2 separate regions of the Homo sapiens genome follow, and region 1 is linked to region 2. A link means that fine-mapping ties the variant in region 2 to the expression of a gene that starts in the linked region. Tissue or cell type: whole blood. Region 2 holds a variant in brackets; the other region holds the start of a gene. All regions are shown on one strand. Distances are from middle to middle.

Region 1 (8,101 bases), 100 kb before region 2:
CTGGGCTGGGTTCCAGGAGGCCAGGACATAGAGAGGGGGGCCTGGCTAGGGGTCCAGCAGCAACCCAAGTCCCTTCTATCTACCAATATCCTTCTCCCAGGAAGCAGGGGAGAGGATGTGAACCCCGCCTGGGTTTTCCCACACCCAGCTGGTGACCCAGCTGACCCGGGACACTGAGGCACAAAAGAACCGCATGACTCCTGCAGAAACTGGAGCTAAAAATACCCTCCAGTGCCCAGCCTGGCCTGCGAGAGGAGCCCCCTGGCCTGCCTCCCGGCAACCTGCTGCTTCCTTCCCCATCTGGGATGGCCCTGGGGCAAATCATGCCCCTGGAGCCACATTCTGACTTCAGATCCCCAAATCCTGGGGTCTTTCCTCCTCTTGGTCCCATGGGCTGGCCCCAGGGGCTCCAGCTGGAGCTAGGAACACTTACCCAGGTAGATATCTCCGAAGGACCCGCTCCCGATCTTCCGTCCCAGGCGGTACTTGTTCCCCACACGTAGCTCCATGGCTCACTCTTGCTGCAGAGGAAGCAGGAACATGAGGGTCAGCGACGTGGGGAGCCGGGAAAGGGGTCCAGTCCACCAAGGCCAGGCAGAGCCACCAGGAACTCGAAAACCTGCATTCTCGAAGACCACATTCTGCAGGTGTCAGGTGGCCCACAGCCTGCACTCCACACACCTGGGGAACAGCTAAGGCAGGCTGAGGACAGGTTTCAGTGTGGCCAGAGAGGAAGCAGCCAAGCAAGCATGTCTTTGGGGGATGCTCATTCAGGGGCCCCTCAAAAGAAGCTTCTCAAGGGATCACAACGGGCATCAGCCCTCTTACACCTCCTACCCCCCAGGCTCCCACAGCCTGGCCTGGTCTTCCCAAGTACTGCCCCTGCCCAGAGGCCAGACCTCGCCAGTGCCCAGCACGCCTTGCAGGAGAAAGTCGCATCCCCTACTGGGGGGAAGGCAGAAAAGAATGCCCTCGACCATCCACCTTCCAGCCACCTCCCCATCTCTACGTCATGACACCAAGACCTCACACGGAGGCCCATAGCCGCTTGGATAAACTGTTTGGAGCTGGCGTCCTTTAAGACTAGGAGGGTCTCCTAAGAGGGCCCTCATAGAACAACAAAGGGGACTGAGCCAGGGTTTTAGCCGCCTGCCCCGGATGGGTGGGAGGAGGAGTTCTGATGTGAGCAGCTTCTCTCCTTCCTCAGGGCCAGGGGGGAGCCCTCTGCTCTGGCCTGGGGCAGAGGAGGGACCCCTCTGCTCTGGCCTGGGGCAAAAGTCCGGACACCCTGTTCCTGGTCAGCAGAGGAGGAAACTGAAGGCCTGGAGGCAGTGCTGCCGTGGGGACAGGGACCAGGGACTGCAGTAAACAGGGGGAGGGGTGTTTACAAGAGGACCAGCATCAAGGACTAGCAAGAGGGAACTCCTTTCACAGACAGGGTACTCAGGCTCACAGAGGCCATGCCACCTGTCCCACACCACCCTGCAGATGGTACAGCCTCGCCGAGGACAGGGCTCCGGCTGTCCCACCTGGTGGTCTCCCACACTCACAAACAGGGCAAAACAGGAAGACTGCAGAGCAGCTGTGCTGGCACAGAAGATCAGCCCCTTGCCCGTGCCAAGTGCTGCCCCCAACAACCAGGCCAGCCTGGGAGGGAGATGGATTCCAGGGACAGTGGGCAGATCCCAGGAGAGACAGGGAACCCCGGCACCTGGCTCCCAAGGAGCTCACCAGCCCTCCACCAATAACCACGAGGCAGGGACCTCCACCAGAGCTGGCCAAACTCTGGGCTCTCAATCAAGGGCCGCTGCCCATATGCTTGGCCTGTCTCAGCTGAGGTGCCACGCTGCCAGGGGAACACAGTCCACGTTTGCAGGAAACCCACACGCCACACATCCCACGTACACACACGTCCAGCTTCCCGAGTGTGTACACTCCAACGGAAGAAAGAAAAGCAGGCACACACAGTGAGCCCTGTTGGGGGGTAAGGGGGGGTGTGCACGCAACCCCCCCCCAACACCTCAGTCCACTTTCTGCCAACACCAATTCAGAGACCACACATGGCAGCCAGGAAACCCGCAGGTTAGGAAAGGAACATAAATATACCCGCATCCTATATTACATAAATACCCACGCCGGGTTATATAAATACCCGTGCCCTCTGTCTGGGTGTCTTACATAAATATACTGCACATGACCCCCCAGTCTCTCCCCACTCACCGGCTGTCTGCAGAGAACGAGAGCGGGAAGGGGCAAGCCCTTCAGGACCCCCTGACTGCTATGTGCCAGCCACCCAGACCCCCAGTCGCTCCCCAACACCCCAGGGGTCCAAGGTCCCTGGGGGAGCCTAGACTGTCCCGGCACCAATACCCAAAAAGCCTCCCAGAGGAGAGCAGAAAAGCTTCATTCAGGAATGGAGAGGCTTTTCAGTTCTTTTGCTGCTTCTCCCATGGGGGAGGGGGGGAGATAAACAAAGTGGGGGGAAAAGTGGATATAAAGGTTCAAGAGTTTCAGCAGGTTAAAAAAATTAGACAAACTACCAACCAGCATGGCACACGGGCAGTGCTTCTTACTCCCCGAACACCATCGCCTACCCCTGAGCCGGGGCCCTTGTCCCTCGGACGATTAAAATAAAAATTGAAGGGACATCATAGAAACGAAGGCAAAGGAGACCCAAACACAGGCATTGCTTGGAAGCAACTTGAGACACTTGTGTCCCCTTCTCCTCTCTCCAAATCCTTCTCCAGGAAGGAGGCTATGCCAGGAAGAAAATATGCAAGAAAACTAAGGGAAAAGTTGGGGAGGGGGCTCACCCCACTTCGAGTTAGGGTATTAACAAGAGCTTGGGAATCCTCTAACGACACCCAGACACTGTTTTGCGTTCCTTAGAGACTTGCAAGACATCAATCTCTCACACAAAAATGGGAGAATCCGATCCGACAAATAACCCCCACCCCTTTCTTTCTCTCCACAAAGAAAAACAAATCAGTGGCCTGGTGACCACACACCTCTTCACCTTAGGACCCCCAAACGCCCGTCATCCAACGAGCGGGCGCAGCCTTGCGAACCCCCAGGTCCGGGCGCCGGGGCCGGGAGAGCAGGGGGCGCCGGTGATTGTCCGATGAAACGCTACGCGGGCCCGAATCAACAGTATCCGGCGCCCAGCACCCCAAGCCCCCTCCCTCAGCGTCCCCAAATCACAGCCGGGGTGGCCGCCTGGCCGGCCGGGGCCTCGGAGGGCCCAGCGGGGGGAAGCGGAGGCAGGCCGGCCGGGGGGCCTCCCCCGCGAGCCTGCAAAATAACAGGCCCCCTCCTCCTCGTCCCCAGCCGCGCCTTTGTCCTCGCCGGGCCGAGCGGGCGGCGCCCGGGCTGCCCCCCCTACACCCCAGCGCGAACGCGCGTGTGTCTGCCCTCCCTTCCCTCCCTCTCCAGCAAAAACAAAGAGGCTGAGGGAGCCCGATTCCCCCCAGGTTTGCACCCTTCCGCGGGCCCGCGGCCCCCCGATATTTACCCCGCCGGGAAGGCGCCGATGCCGGGCCACTGCTCGGGGGGCTGCCGCGGGCGGGGGCGGCCCGCCGGGGCGGATGCCGGAGGATTCGCGGAGCCGCCCGGCGCGCCAGCCTCTCCCGGCCCAGCCGCCGCCGCCGCCGCCGCCGCCGCGCTCCGCTCGGCCCCGGCCGGGCTCTGGCTCTGGGCTCTCGCCGCCGCCGCCGCCGCCGCCGCCGCCTCCCTCCTCCCGGCCTCCTGCCCGCCCGCCCGCCCCCGCCGCCGGCTCGCGCGCTCTCGCACCGCGCGCGCCCGCCGGCTCCCATTGAGCCCCGGGCCCGCCCGCTGATGTCATCCCCGGCCCGCCGCCGCCGCCCCGGAGGATTTAAAGGGCCCGCGCCCTCCGCGCTGGGGGCCGCAGCTGCGAGACGCAGTTCCCCAGCCTCAGTGCAGGCGCGCGGGCTTACGCGTGGGGGTGGGGGAGCACACAGATACTGACACCCTAATGCAGTCCAGGGCACAGGTGGAAAAGACGGGGTGCGGGGGGGACAGAGGGAAGAGGAGGGCGCACAAAAAGCGGAGGTGAGGGGATGGGAGGGGAGGGTCTAGACCCAAAGTCTCCTCTCCCCGCCTGCCAGGATCTCTCTCCTCTCCAGGCAGAGCACTGGGCCCCTGCGAAAACAGGCGGCTATTCACGACACTGCAAAAGATGTTAGACTGCTGGAGGCTCAGTCCGCCTCCAGGTTCCGAGTGCCGCAGAGAACACAGGCCAGGTTGATTCAGGGCAAGAGATTTGAGGAGACAGCTAGGGATGTCGACACAAGGCCCAGAAAGGTAGCCTGGGCTCATACATTCTCCTCCCGTGGAAAAACGAAGGGCAAAGACCTCTTCTTCTTTTCCCTGAAGCTCAAACTGTGATGGGCACAGAGAGGACCCCTCAGATCCCAACCTCATTCTCCCCTGTTGAAGGAGGGGTGCCACAAGTACCAAAGCACCGACACTTGAGTCTGGGCTCCGAGTGGTGCACGTTTAGCCAAGCCACCTCCCAGCTCTGAGCTTGGGTTTCCTTAAACAGCAAATGGGAGGAAGGACCCTGTCCTCCCCAGGTCACAGAATTAATAAAAGCTTCTACCGGCATGCAGAGCCGCGATGAAAGGTTGCAGAACAAAGTCATTAAAGTGATGATATTTACACTGAGCCATGCAAAGCTTCCAATTATGACACACCTATATTCACACAGTTGTGACTGTGGACACGCAAAATGCCTGAGGCCCTGCGTCCAATCCCGGAAGCACAGTTCCTGGGAGGAGTCACTTCTATAATAGCCGTATCTTCCCTCCTCGAGGCTGAGGGACTGAGTCACACACGTGTCCAAACGGGCAGGAGCCCCACAGACTAAGTCCTTTCGCCGGCCAGGAAACTGGCCCAGAGAGGGGAAGGGCTTTGCCCAGGACCACAAAGCCCAACAGGACAGCTCTGTTCTCCCAGCGATCACCAGGAAACTGGGTCTATCTAGAGCCCATTTCCAAGAGCAGGAGAGTGAGAAGCCTCCTCCCAGGAGGGCCTGCCTTCAGTGACACCTTTGCCAGAGCAGGGGGTCACCAGCCAGGTGGTGGGCTTTACTTGGCCTGCGCGGTGCTTTCTGTTGTTGTTTTGTTAATTAATCCCCAAAGTTTTTTTTTTTTTTTTTGCTTTTTGTTTTTGTTGGTTTTGAGATAGAGTCTCGCTGTGTGGCTCAGGCTGGAGTGCAGTGGCTCAATATCGGCTCACTGCAACCTCTGCCTCCTGGGTTCAAGTGATTCTCCAGCCTCAGCCTCCCTCCTGAATAGCTGGAATTACAGATGTGCACCACCACACCTGGCTAATTTTTGCCCAGGACCACACAGTATTTTTAGTAGAGACGGGGTTGGCCAGGCTGGGCTGGAACTCCTGACCTCAAGTGATCCGCCTGCCTCGGCCTCCCAAACTGCTGGGATTATAGGCGTGAGCCACCATGCCTGGCCACTCCCCAAAGTTTTAAAACTGGAAGATTTCATATTTCAGATCCAGATTCCCTGTTTCTCTGGGGGCATTAGGAGATCCGGTAACTCTGGGCCCAAGTTCTCAGCCGGCCTGAGCGCCACCCCACCGCCACCCATTTTGTTTCTTTCCTCACATGAGCCCAGGCAGAGAGGCCTGGGCACAATTGAGCAGGGGGTGAAGTCTGCCCCTGTGTCCTCCAGTCCTTACCACCCCTAACCTTCCAACCTGGGCCCTGCTTCCCAAAGCCCTCCTCTTCTTCAGCACTTTCAAGGCAACCAGCCCTGGGAGAGGAGGTTATTTGTTATCTCATTTAATCCTCTCAAACAACAACAGATTACACTGTATTCTTTCAGAGAAGGAATCAGGCTCCTCCCAGTGCTTGCCTAAGGGCACAGATCAACCTCTCCCTTAAACTGGGCCTGGCTGGAACAGACCCCCTGCCCCTTCCTAACCCAGCCAGATCGCCAGGTCTGACTGCAGCACGTTCACGTTCTCCCCTCTGCATTCAGGACTTGTAACCACACCTCCCACCCCAGCACCCCCACCCCACCCCCTGCCCCAGTTAAGATCCTGCTCAGTTCCCTGGGCCAGCCAGGCTGAGGAGCCCGGCTCATCCCCAGGCCTGCTAGGGAGCCTCCCTGCCTTGCCATTGGAAGGACATGCTGTTGTCCACTGCCTGAGTTGTGGGCCCAAGTCCTTGTCCTTCCTATCCCTGGAAGACCTGTGTGTGGGCCCTTCCAAAGAGCTTTGCAGTGAAGCTATAAGGGAAGGCAAACCATGACACAAAACCCAGCTGAGGAGGGGAGACTGGTCCAAAGTGAAAAACAAAACCTTACGTGTTCCAGCAGCCCCACAGCCTGACTTCTCTCTCCGACTTGGTTCACAGTGATTCCTCTCAGATTTAACTCCTAACTTTAAAACCCAACGGTGGGGCCGGGCACGCCCCTGTAATCCCAGCACTTCAGAGGCCAAGGCGGGTGATCACCTGAGGTCAGGAGTTCAAGACCAGCCTGGCCAACACGGTGAAACCCCGTTTCTACTAAAAATACAAAAAATTAGCTGGGCACGATGGCGGGCACCTGTAATCCCAGCCACTCGGGAGGCTGAGGCAGGAGAATCACTTGAACCCAGGAGGCGGAGGTTGCAGTGAGCCGAGATCGTACCATTGCACTCTAGCTTGGGCGACAGAGCGAGACTCCGTCTCAAAAAAATAAATAAAAAACAAAACAAAACAAAAAACCCAAGGGTGTGGCAAAGTTCCCCTAGCTACCTTCTCTGCAAGCCAACAAGAAGATGAAATCAGGCTAGAATAGGTGTGGGGTGAATTGCCAGCTCCCAAGGGGCCCACCCTGGGTTTCAGCTGCTCTGCATTGGTTCAGGAATAGTGGCTCTCACAACACCTTTCCAAACTGGCTTTTGTCTTTTTTTTAGAGGCTCATTCTGTCACCCAGGCTGGAGTGCAGTGGCAGGATCATACCTCGCTGTAGCCTCAAATTCCTGGGCTCAAGCGATCCTCCTGCCTCAGCCTTCCAAGTAGCTGGGACTACAGGCATGCACCACCACACCCAGCTAATTTTTAAATTTTTTATAGAGATGGGGTCTTACTGTGTTGCCCAGACTGGTCTGAAACTCCTGGGCTCAAGTGACCCTTCTGCCTCGCCCTCCCAAAGTGCTGTGATTACAAGTGTGAGCCACTGTGTTCCCAAACTGACATTTTTTACCTGCTCCCTATTTCAGACCCTTCAAGATCACTTGGCACGCAGGAGCACTGGGCTGGGATCCCAAGGACAGCCCTGGAATTCCCAGATAATGACGATATGGCTGCAGATAAACCCAGAAAGATTTCAGTACCTGCCCCAGGAATCTCAGTCTTGACTAAGGACTCATAGATTTACTAAACATCAAGGGCTGGCCTGAAAACGGCCCTCCAGGATCTGTCCTCCACTCCCCGCACCTGGCTCTCCTGACCTCAGCTCCTGTAAGTTTTCTTCTTGCTCACAGCCCTGTAGCCTCACTGGCCTCCCATGGAATGAACCTCTGGCCTCAGGGCCTTGGCAGGGGCTGTTTCCACTGCCTGGTGCGCTCTTCCCGCAGAGCACCAACCCCCCTCACCTCTCACCTTTCTCAAGTCCCCTTCAGAGGTAGGCCCTCCTGGTCTCCCAGTTTATTTATTTATTTATTTTTTGAGACAGAGTCTGGCTCTGTCTCCCAGGCTGGAATGCAGTGGCCCGATCTCGGCTCACTGCAACCTCCGCCTCCCGGGTTCAAGCAATTCTCCTGCCTCAGCCTCCAGAGTAGCTGGGATTACAGGCGTCCACCACCATACCTGGCTAATTTTTGTATTTTTAGTAGAGATGGAGGTGTCACCATGTTACCCAGGCTGGTCTTAAACTCCTGACCTCAGGTGATCCGTCCGCCTCAGCCTCCCAAAAAGCTGGGATTACAGGTGTGAGCCACCACGTCTGGGCCCAGTCTCCCAATTTAAAATCCTGGCGCTGGGCCACAGGCGGTGCCTCACACCTGTAATCCCAGAACTTTGGGAGGCAGAGGCAGGCGTTGCTTGAGCTCAGGAGTTTGAGACCAGCCTGGATAA
Region 2 (8,101 bases):
AAGTTGCTTCAGCCTCTACCAGGGCAGGCCCTCCCCTATGCCGGAGTGGCAGGGGGTGGGCCTTATGGGTGCGGCCTGAGGCAGAGGGTGCGGGCCAAGGAGTGGGAGAGGACCGTGGCTGCTGAGGGGCTGAGGGGCTGGGGGCCTGGCCCACAGACATCATCTCCCTCCGTCCTCAGGGCAGCGGTGTGAGGTGGGAGCTGGGGCTTCCCCATGTTACAGATGAGGCTCAGAGAGGCCAAGTCACCTCTCCAAGGTCAATCAGTAGCAAGGGGCAGAGCCAGGATTTGGCCAGGTCTGGATGACGCCTGAGATGTAATCCCAACCCCAGCAGTGGGCGTGAGCGGGACCTCCACAGGCAGAAGGAGCAGCTGTTTCCTGACCACCTGCCGGGTGCCTGGCCCTCTGCACGCGCGATGGCTCAGTGAGGCCCTGTGTCCCGCCCCACAGGAGGCTGCAGCCTCGCCCCTTCTCACAGACAGGCCTGAAGCCAAGAAGGCAGGCCTGGGAAGCTCCAGCCTCAGGTGAGCGTCTGAGTTACTGCCCAAACGCAGGCAAACCCCTTTCCTGTCTGGGCCTCAGTGTCCCCATCCGTACTTCCAGGAGATCGGGCCACAGTCCCAAAAGACCCATCCAACTTTTCTTTTTTTTTTTTTTTTTGAGATGGGGCCGCTCGCTCTGTCACCCAGGCTGGAGTGCAGTAGCGCGATCTTGGCTCACTGCAACCTCTGCCTCCCAGGCTCAAGCGATTCTCTTGCCTCAGCCTCCCAAGTAGCTGGGATTACAGGCGCCCACCACCATGCCCAGCTAATTTTTGTATTTTTAGTAGAGACAGGATTTCACCATGTTGGCCAGGCTGGTCTCAAACTCCTGACCTAAGGTGATTCACCCGCCTCGGTGGCCCAAAGTGCTGGGATTACAGGCGTGAGTGAGCCACCGTGCCTGGCCAAGGCCCATCCAACTCTGATGTTTATAACATGTCCCACGGGGAGGCTGGCAGAGAGCTGGGCTGGGAGGCAGCTGCAATGACCCGGGGCTTTCGAAGCCTGCCTTCCCCAGCAAACCCATTCTCCAGGTCTCTCAGTGAGGCCCACCTGCGGCCGGGGGAAGAGGAGGAGTGTCTTTCCTGATGCAGACCCCGCTCCATGCTGCAGTGGATCCACGTGCACGATGCCATGTAGTTGCAGGTTGTCACCCCTGTGAGAGAGGGACTGTTGTTATGGCCTCTTTTTTATAGTTGAAGCCCAGGGCCAGGAAGTCCCTGGGCCCAGGACCACCCGAGAGGGAGGTCATGGTTGGGCCCCTCACCCAGGCTGCGGGCTCCAGGCCCCACCCTTCTGCCGCCACCTTCATGATGCCACAAAGTCGAAGTCTGATTTCATTACCCCCCTGACCCCAAGCTGGTCTTTGGCTGCCAGGAGGTGGCAAGGCCATTTGCGGCCCCCTCCGCACCCAGTCCTTCCCTGCAGTGACTGGGCTGTGAATAGCCTGGCCCATCCTCTCCACGGCCCCACCTTTGCCGTCCCCATGCTCAATTGCCCATATCCTCCCTCCTCTCACCTGCCATTTCCCAGTCATTCCATTGTCTCGCGCTCTCCTGCCCACTGAGGTGCCTCTGGCAGCTTCCCAGGTCCTCCCTGACTGGTTTTGGAACCCCAAAAGTGGCCCCCCTATTCCTGCTGCCCCATTCAATGTCCCACAGCAGCCCCAGACACCTGGAGACTGGCAGAGGCTGCGAGAAGGCTGGCCCCGTCCAGGCTGCCACTCTGCCCACCCGGGCCTGCTGGCTTCCCATCCCTGCCCAGCCCCTGCTCCAGGCCACTCAGCTGCCACGTGCAGCTCCTGAATGCCACCTCCGTCACCCACTCCTCTGCTCCCAGCCTGCCCAGAGCTCCCCACTGCCTACAGGAAAAGGTCCCAGGTCATTAGTGTGTCGTCCTCACCTGCTCACCTGGCCCAGCCCCCAGTACGGCCCCACCCATGCCATGCACCCCCCTTCAGCCTCACTCGCCTCCCCGCCAACCTCTGCCAGGGTACAGAGGCTGAAGAGTCTTCAACCTTAAGGCCAGAAAGCCTTGGGCAAGACGTGTCACCCCTCAGAGCCTCCTCATCTGTACAATGGGGGAATCACAGAACCCCCCTCACAGGGCAGATGGGGGGTGTCAAATGGGAAATCAGAGAGTAAGGGGCTCCATCACCTGGAAAGTGCACCATTCACTGTGACCCTTACCGTAGGGGATTGCTCAGATTCCCCTCCAGCGGTGATAAGAGACTGGGGGTGGGCCTGACAGGGTAGGAGTCAGGGGCGGTGGAGGAGATCTCACAGCCAGGACAGAGTCGCCGCCTGCTCCAGCCCACAGGGCAGACATCGGGGTCCCCATCTGCAGAGAAGAAGATAGGAGGCTTGGGGCACACAGCTGCCAAGCGGAACTGGCATTGGCAACAGGCCTGTCCTTTGCCCCCAACACGCACGCAGCGGGGCTTCTCTGTCCCCTCCAGCCTCTGGGTTTTCTTCATCTCCTTTTTTTTTTTTTTTTTTTTTTTGAGATGGAGTCTCACTGTGTTGCCCAGGCTGGAGTGCAGTGGTGCCATCTTGGCTCACTGCAACCTCTGCCTCCCAGGTTCAAGCAATTCTTCTGCCTTAGCCTCCCAAGTAGCTGGAATTATAGCCACCACACCTGGCTAATTTTTTGTATTTTTAGTACAGACGGGGTTTCACCATGTTGGCCAGGCTGGTTTCAAACTCCTGACCTCAGGTGATCCACCCACCTCGGCCTCCCAAAGTGCTGGGATTACAGGTGTGAGCCACCGTGCCTGGCCTTCATCTCCCCGATTTGGGTTCCAGCCGCTGCTGTAGTTGCTGGGCTGTCTTGGTCTCTGTATCTCCTTAGCCTCCTCTGGCTTTTCCGTGCAGCTCCCGCACCGCTCAGCGCCCCCGGCCTTCTCCCGGGGCCATCCCTTCTTTGGCCCTAGCTCCTTTTCTCTAATGCCCACCTTCCTCTCTGCCTGGCTGCATGCGGGCCTAGGGTTTTGCCATCCTGGGGTCCCTGAGCACCCAGCTGCTTCCCCACAGACATGCCAGTCCTTGTAGTGGGTGGGAGGCTGTCACTTCCCCTCCGTCTGTGCCCCGACACCTGTTGCTGTCCACCTGTGACTCAGTGTGGTGTCTCCGGACCCACAAGCCGGTGCCTCCTCTGCTGGAGCTCCGCTTGATCTGTTTTGCGTTCTCTTCTGCCTCCCTCGGGCTCACTCTTGGCCCCTGGGCCTCAGTAGGCCTCCCTCTCTCAGCCCTTGTCTCTCTGTCATTTTTTGTCTCTGACTCTCTCAGTGTCTCTTTCTGTGTTTCTCCTCTCTCTCCCCATCTCTGTCACAACCTATCCCTGTCACCTCCTCCCACATCAGTGTGTAATATCCCTTCCATCCTCACAGCTCTGTCGCCTCTCCCTGAACCCTTCCCGCCTGTGTGCACTCACCCTTAGGCCCTGCACCAGGTGTAGACAGAGGCCCCGGGGGGAGGTGAGGCAGGAGGGGCTCAGACAGGCCTGGGG[G/A]ACGTTCCAGGGATAGCAAGGGGAGGACAGTGAGCTGAGCCTCTGCCCTGCTTAGCAGGAGCCCCAGGAGGCCAGAGGGGCAGGTGCTGGCCTCCAGACCCTCATCCCAAGGGGCCACATCCCAGAAGGTAACCCTGGTGACAGGCGGAGGGTCAGGAGCCTGGCTCTGGATAGGGCTCTGTGGCTGTTCCTCTGTGTGATGTCGCTAATTCCCCCACCCTCCCCTCTCTTCCTCTGAACTGGGGACAACCAAAGGTCTCTTCTTGGCCTCCTTCTCACTGTGGGCACTGTGAGAGCGGAAAGCAACCTCCACCCAGCAGGGGCTCTGGCTTACTTGCCCCATTATCAAAGCCCCTGCAACCGCAGTGGACGGCTCCAGCGACCATGACCAAGAAGCCCTGGCTGCTGTCCCAAGCCTGAGCAGGTAGCGGCAGGGGTTTGCCCATGGTCCCACCTGGCGTCGGTGGCAGGGCCCAGGCCAGAGGCCGGCTTCAGGACTCTCAGCACAGGGCTGAAGGGTGGGGTCCCAGCTACATCTTTGTCGGTTTGGTTCAGTGCTGAACGGTTTCTGCTAAAACAGGCCTTCCTTACTCACAGAAGGTGCTCAACGGGTTTTCATCGCGTGACCTTGAGACGCCCTTTAGAATCTGTGGTGGGTGGGGCCGGCGTGTGAGCTGAGGGCCAGGATCCAGGCACTTGCTTCTGGCTGTGTGGGAAGGTTCTGCCAGGTTCCAGGCAGCAAGTGGAGTGAGGGGTGGCCAGTGATTGGGGGAGGGGCAAAGCTAGGCTTGGCCAATTTTGCTAAGTGCCTATCTCTGTCTGTCCTCACCTCTCCCCCAGACCTCCTGCCAGCTTCTGAAGGCCAAAGGAACAAAATCCTAGGTGGTCAGGCACATCAGGACCCTGGAGGTCATCAGGTCCCAGCTCCTTTTTTTTTTTTTTTTGAGACCGAGTCTCACTCTGTTGCCCAGGCTGGAGTGCAGTGGCATGATCTCAGCTCACTGCAACCTCCGCCTCCCGGGTTCAAGTGATTCTCGTGTCTCAACCTCCTGAGTAGCTGGGACTGCAGGTGTTCACCACCATGCCTGGCTAATTTTTGTATTTTTAGTAGAGATGGGGTTTTACCATGTTGATCAGGCTGGTCTCGAGCTCCTGACCTAAGGTGATCCACCCACCTTGGGATCAAAGTGCTGGGATTACAGGCGTGAGCCACTGCACCTGGCCTAGCTCCTAACTTTGAAGATGGGGAAAATGAGGCCCAGGAAAGAGAAGAGAACACCCAAGATCACACAGTGGTCAAACCCAAGCTCTCTCTCTAGCCTTCCAGTTTTCATAGACTGAGAGCAAAGTAACCATCAGGTGTCCCTTTTTCCATGGCTGCCAGGTAGCTCAGAGGTCCATTTTCAAATTGTGTGTCTTATATTGTAAGCCAATCCAAATCCCTTCCAGAAGGCAATTCGTATTTATTTAGGTCCAGTAATGTACCTGACACCATGCCATGCCTGGTCACATATGGGATCTCATTTAACGCACACAGCAAGCATGTGAGATAGATATGAATGGCTCTTTCAGATAAGGAAACAGGCTCAGAGACATCAATTAACTTGCCCAAAGTTGCACAGCTAGTAAGTGGTAAAGGCAGGATTCAAATCTAGGACCCTCTGGCTCTGATACCCGTGATCTTTCCTCTCTGTGAATAGGCACATAGAGGCCAGTGCTCTCGGCCCCATGCCCTGGTCTCATTATTGTGCCCATTGCCTGCCATTCTTCCTCATCTTCATTCACTCTCTTGACTAGGAGCCCCTTTCGTGGCTGTGAAGGGGAATATTGGTTATTTATTTATTTATTTTTGAGACAGAATCTCACTCTGTCACACAGGCTGGAGTGCAGTGGCATGATCTCAGTTCTTTGCAACCTCTGCCTCCCGGGTTCAAGCAATTCTCTGCCTCAGCCTCCTGAGTAGCTGGGATTACAAGCCCACGCCACCACGCCCGGCTAATTTTTGTATTTTCAGTAGAGAAAGGGTTTCGCCATGTTGGCCAGGCTGGTCTTGAACTCCTGACCTTGTGATTCACACACCTCGGCCTCCCAAAGTGCTGGGATTATAGGCATGAGCCACCGTGCCTGGCCAGGATATTGGATTTAAAGCTCCTTCGCTTTCCAATTCCTGGGACCCAGGTCTACATCGTCCTTGTAGGAAGATTCAAAGGCTGAAGGGTGCATTTCTACAGCCTGCCAGACAGAGCCCAGAATTCTGTTAGCTTTTGAACCTTGTACTCAGCTTATGCAAACAGGCACAAGAAGAAAAAATAGTGAACAAAGATGTTCATCACTGCGTTGCTCCAGGTCTCAGTTTCTCTATCTGTAAATGAGGGGTTGCCTTGATGATCCATAATGGTGTATAATTTTTGATCTTCTATAATTTGATGAACATTCTATAGTCATTAAAAATTGAAGGCCGGGCGCAGTGGCTCACATCTGTAATCCCAGCACTTTGGGAGGCTGAGGGCGGATCACAAGGTCAGGAGTTCCAGACTGGCCTCGCCAACATAACCCCGTCTCTACTAAAAATACAAAAAATTATCCAGGCATGGTGGTGCACACCTGTAATCCCAACTACTCGGGAGGCTGAGGCAGGAGAATCTATTTTTTTTTTTTTTTTTTTTTTGAGATGGTGTTTCACTCTTGTTGCCCAGGCTGGAGTACAATGGCATGATCTCGGCTCACTTCAACCTCTGCCCCCCCGGGTTCAAGCGATTCTCCTGCCTCAGCCTCCCAAGTAGCTGGGATTACAGGCATGTGCCACCATGCCTGGCTAATTTTGTATTTTTAGTAGAGACAGGGTTTCTCCATGTTGGTCAGGCTGGTCTCGAACTCCCAACCTCAGGTGATCTGCCCACCTTGGCCTCCCAAAGTGCTGGGATTACAGGTGTGAGCCACCACGCCTGGCCAGGAGAATCTCTTGAACCCAGAAGGCAGAGGTTGTGGTGAGCCGAGATTGCGCCATTGCACTCCAGCCTGGGCAACACAGCGAGACTCCATCTCAAAAAAAAAAAAAAAAAAATTGAAAAGATGTAGAATCCATCAATACCCAGAAAAGTCAATACCTGGAAAAAACTGCAATGAGAAAAGCTAGACGCAGGAAGCAGTCATCTGATCGCAGCCATGGGCTCTAACAAAGACAGGGGTGAACGCAATGAGGTGAAATAGCTGAGTCGGATGCCTCCTAAGTTCTTTTCTATTCTTCTGTGAGCTATTTGAGTTCATAAGGAAGATAAATCTTCCAGAAGCTGGTGGGAAGGAAGCCATGGTGAATCTACAAGGATTAGGCCTGAACCGTGGAATTCCAGGCAGGCAGGCAGGTGTGGCCAGATGAGGGCGGGGTTTTTTGCTCCCATTAGATCCGCCCTCTTCCCCCCTCCCTGTCTTCCTCCCTTTCTTCCTCTTCCTCCTTCCTTGTCTTCCTCCCTTTCTTCCTCTTCCTCCCTCCCTGTCTTCCTCCTTTTCTTCCACATGCATGATACCCTCTTCATTCTCTCCATCCTGCCCACCACTCCTGCTCCCCAAGAGGCTGTGACCGAAGTGGGGAAGAGAGGGCAGGGCAGGGCAGAGGGGGTCTCCTTACCCTGGCTCTGCAGGGAAGCTGGTGTGGCATGAGGAGGGCTTGGCAGCACTTTAAGGCCCCTTCAGCCTGCCCGTTGGCACAATTCCAAGCTCCGTGACATCTAAGGTTCTTACACCCCCAGACGCAGCAACTCCCCCCACCCCGCTCCGTCAGCGCCGCAGGAGCCGGAGTGGAGTGAGGGATCAGAGGAGCGGCACGAGGAGGGAGGCAGGTGGGAGGGCTGTGAAAGGGGAACAGGTGGGAGAGGGAAGGTGAGTCAGCCCCGAGCAGAGCTGAGCCAGCAGGAGTTTGCAGCGCAGCCAGGCCTGGGAGCCTCCCTGCAGCTGCGGGCTCTCGGCACCGCGTGGCCCCCTCCCCCAGTGCCCACACTGGCACTGCCCTTTGGCACTCCAGAAGTCCTGGCTTTGGGCTTTCACTTGCCTCTTCTGTGTGACCCTGCCACAGGTCACCTTGCATGTGACCAGAGAGACCAGGCCTCTCCCAAAAGAGCAACTACCACAAGCATATGAGCAAGCTGCAAGCTGGTGAAGGGCCTGGGGGGACCTTGGAACGCCCCATGTTGCTCTGGATGGTGGATGATGGGCCCTCTTGGGGGTAACCCCACATGTACCCCTTCCCCACCCTGCATCCGGGCCTCTCGCACATCTTAGAGGAGGGTAGACATCCCCTAAGACGTGCTCTAGGTGGAGGCTTCTGAGTCTGGGAGCACCTGAGCCTGAATCCTCTTCAGTTACTGCTCGTAGCCCAGGAAGCCGTGGCATCCTGGGGATGTGGTGGGAGGAGTGGGGAGACCTGGCGAGACCCACCCAGGGCCTGCAGGGCTGGATAGAGGGACATCTCTCATGAGCCTCCAGGGTCAGGATTGAGACCCTGGGGTACTCACCTGACAGAAGGGGACCAGGGGTCCTTCCAGAATGTGGGCAGATGC

Evidence for each region. PIP is the estimated chance that this variant, and not a neighbour inherited with it, causes the effect.
Region 1: it holds the start of CSNK1E, and the variant in region 2 is fine-mapped to the expression of CSNK1E in whole blood (INTERVAL, PIP above 0.99).

Annotation. Positions count from the first base shown.
Region 1 is chr22:38,313,649-38,321,749 of GRCh38, forward strand. It overlaps CSNK1E (casein kinase 1 epsilon), which reads right to left and starts at 3,785. Exons shown (of 11, transcript NM_152221.3): 1 at 3,512-3,785; 2 at 434-521. The coding sequence starts at 509. TPTEP2-CSNK1E (TPTEP2-CSNK1E readthrough) reads right to left here. Exons shown (of 15, transcript NM_001289912.2): 6 at 434-521. The coding sequence starts at 509. RefSeq lists enhancers at 1,054-1,113, 1,184-1,353, 1,374-1,423, 5,225-6,129 and a silencer at 3,113-3,502.
Region 2 is chr22:38,415,786-38,423,886 of GRCh38, forward strand. LOC105373030 (a long non-coding RNA gene) reads right to left here. Exons shown (of 5, transcript XR_938254.4): 1 at 8,057-8,101; 2 at 7,174-7,393; 3 at 2,231-2,381; 4 at 1,095-1,197. Among named protein-coding and RNA genes, the nearest start is that of TPTEP2-CSNK1E, 21 kb to the left of the region's middle. RefSeq lists an enhancer at 1,771-2,270. The variant G/A (reference allele first, on the strand shown) is at 3,549.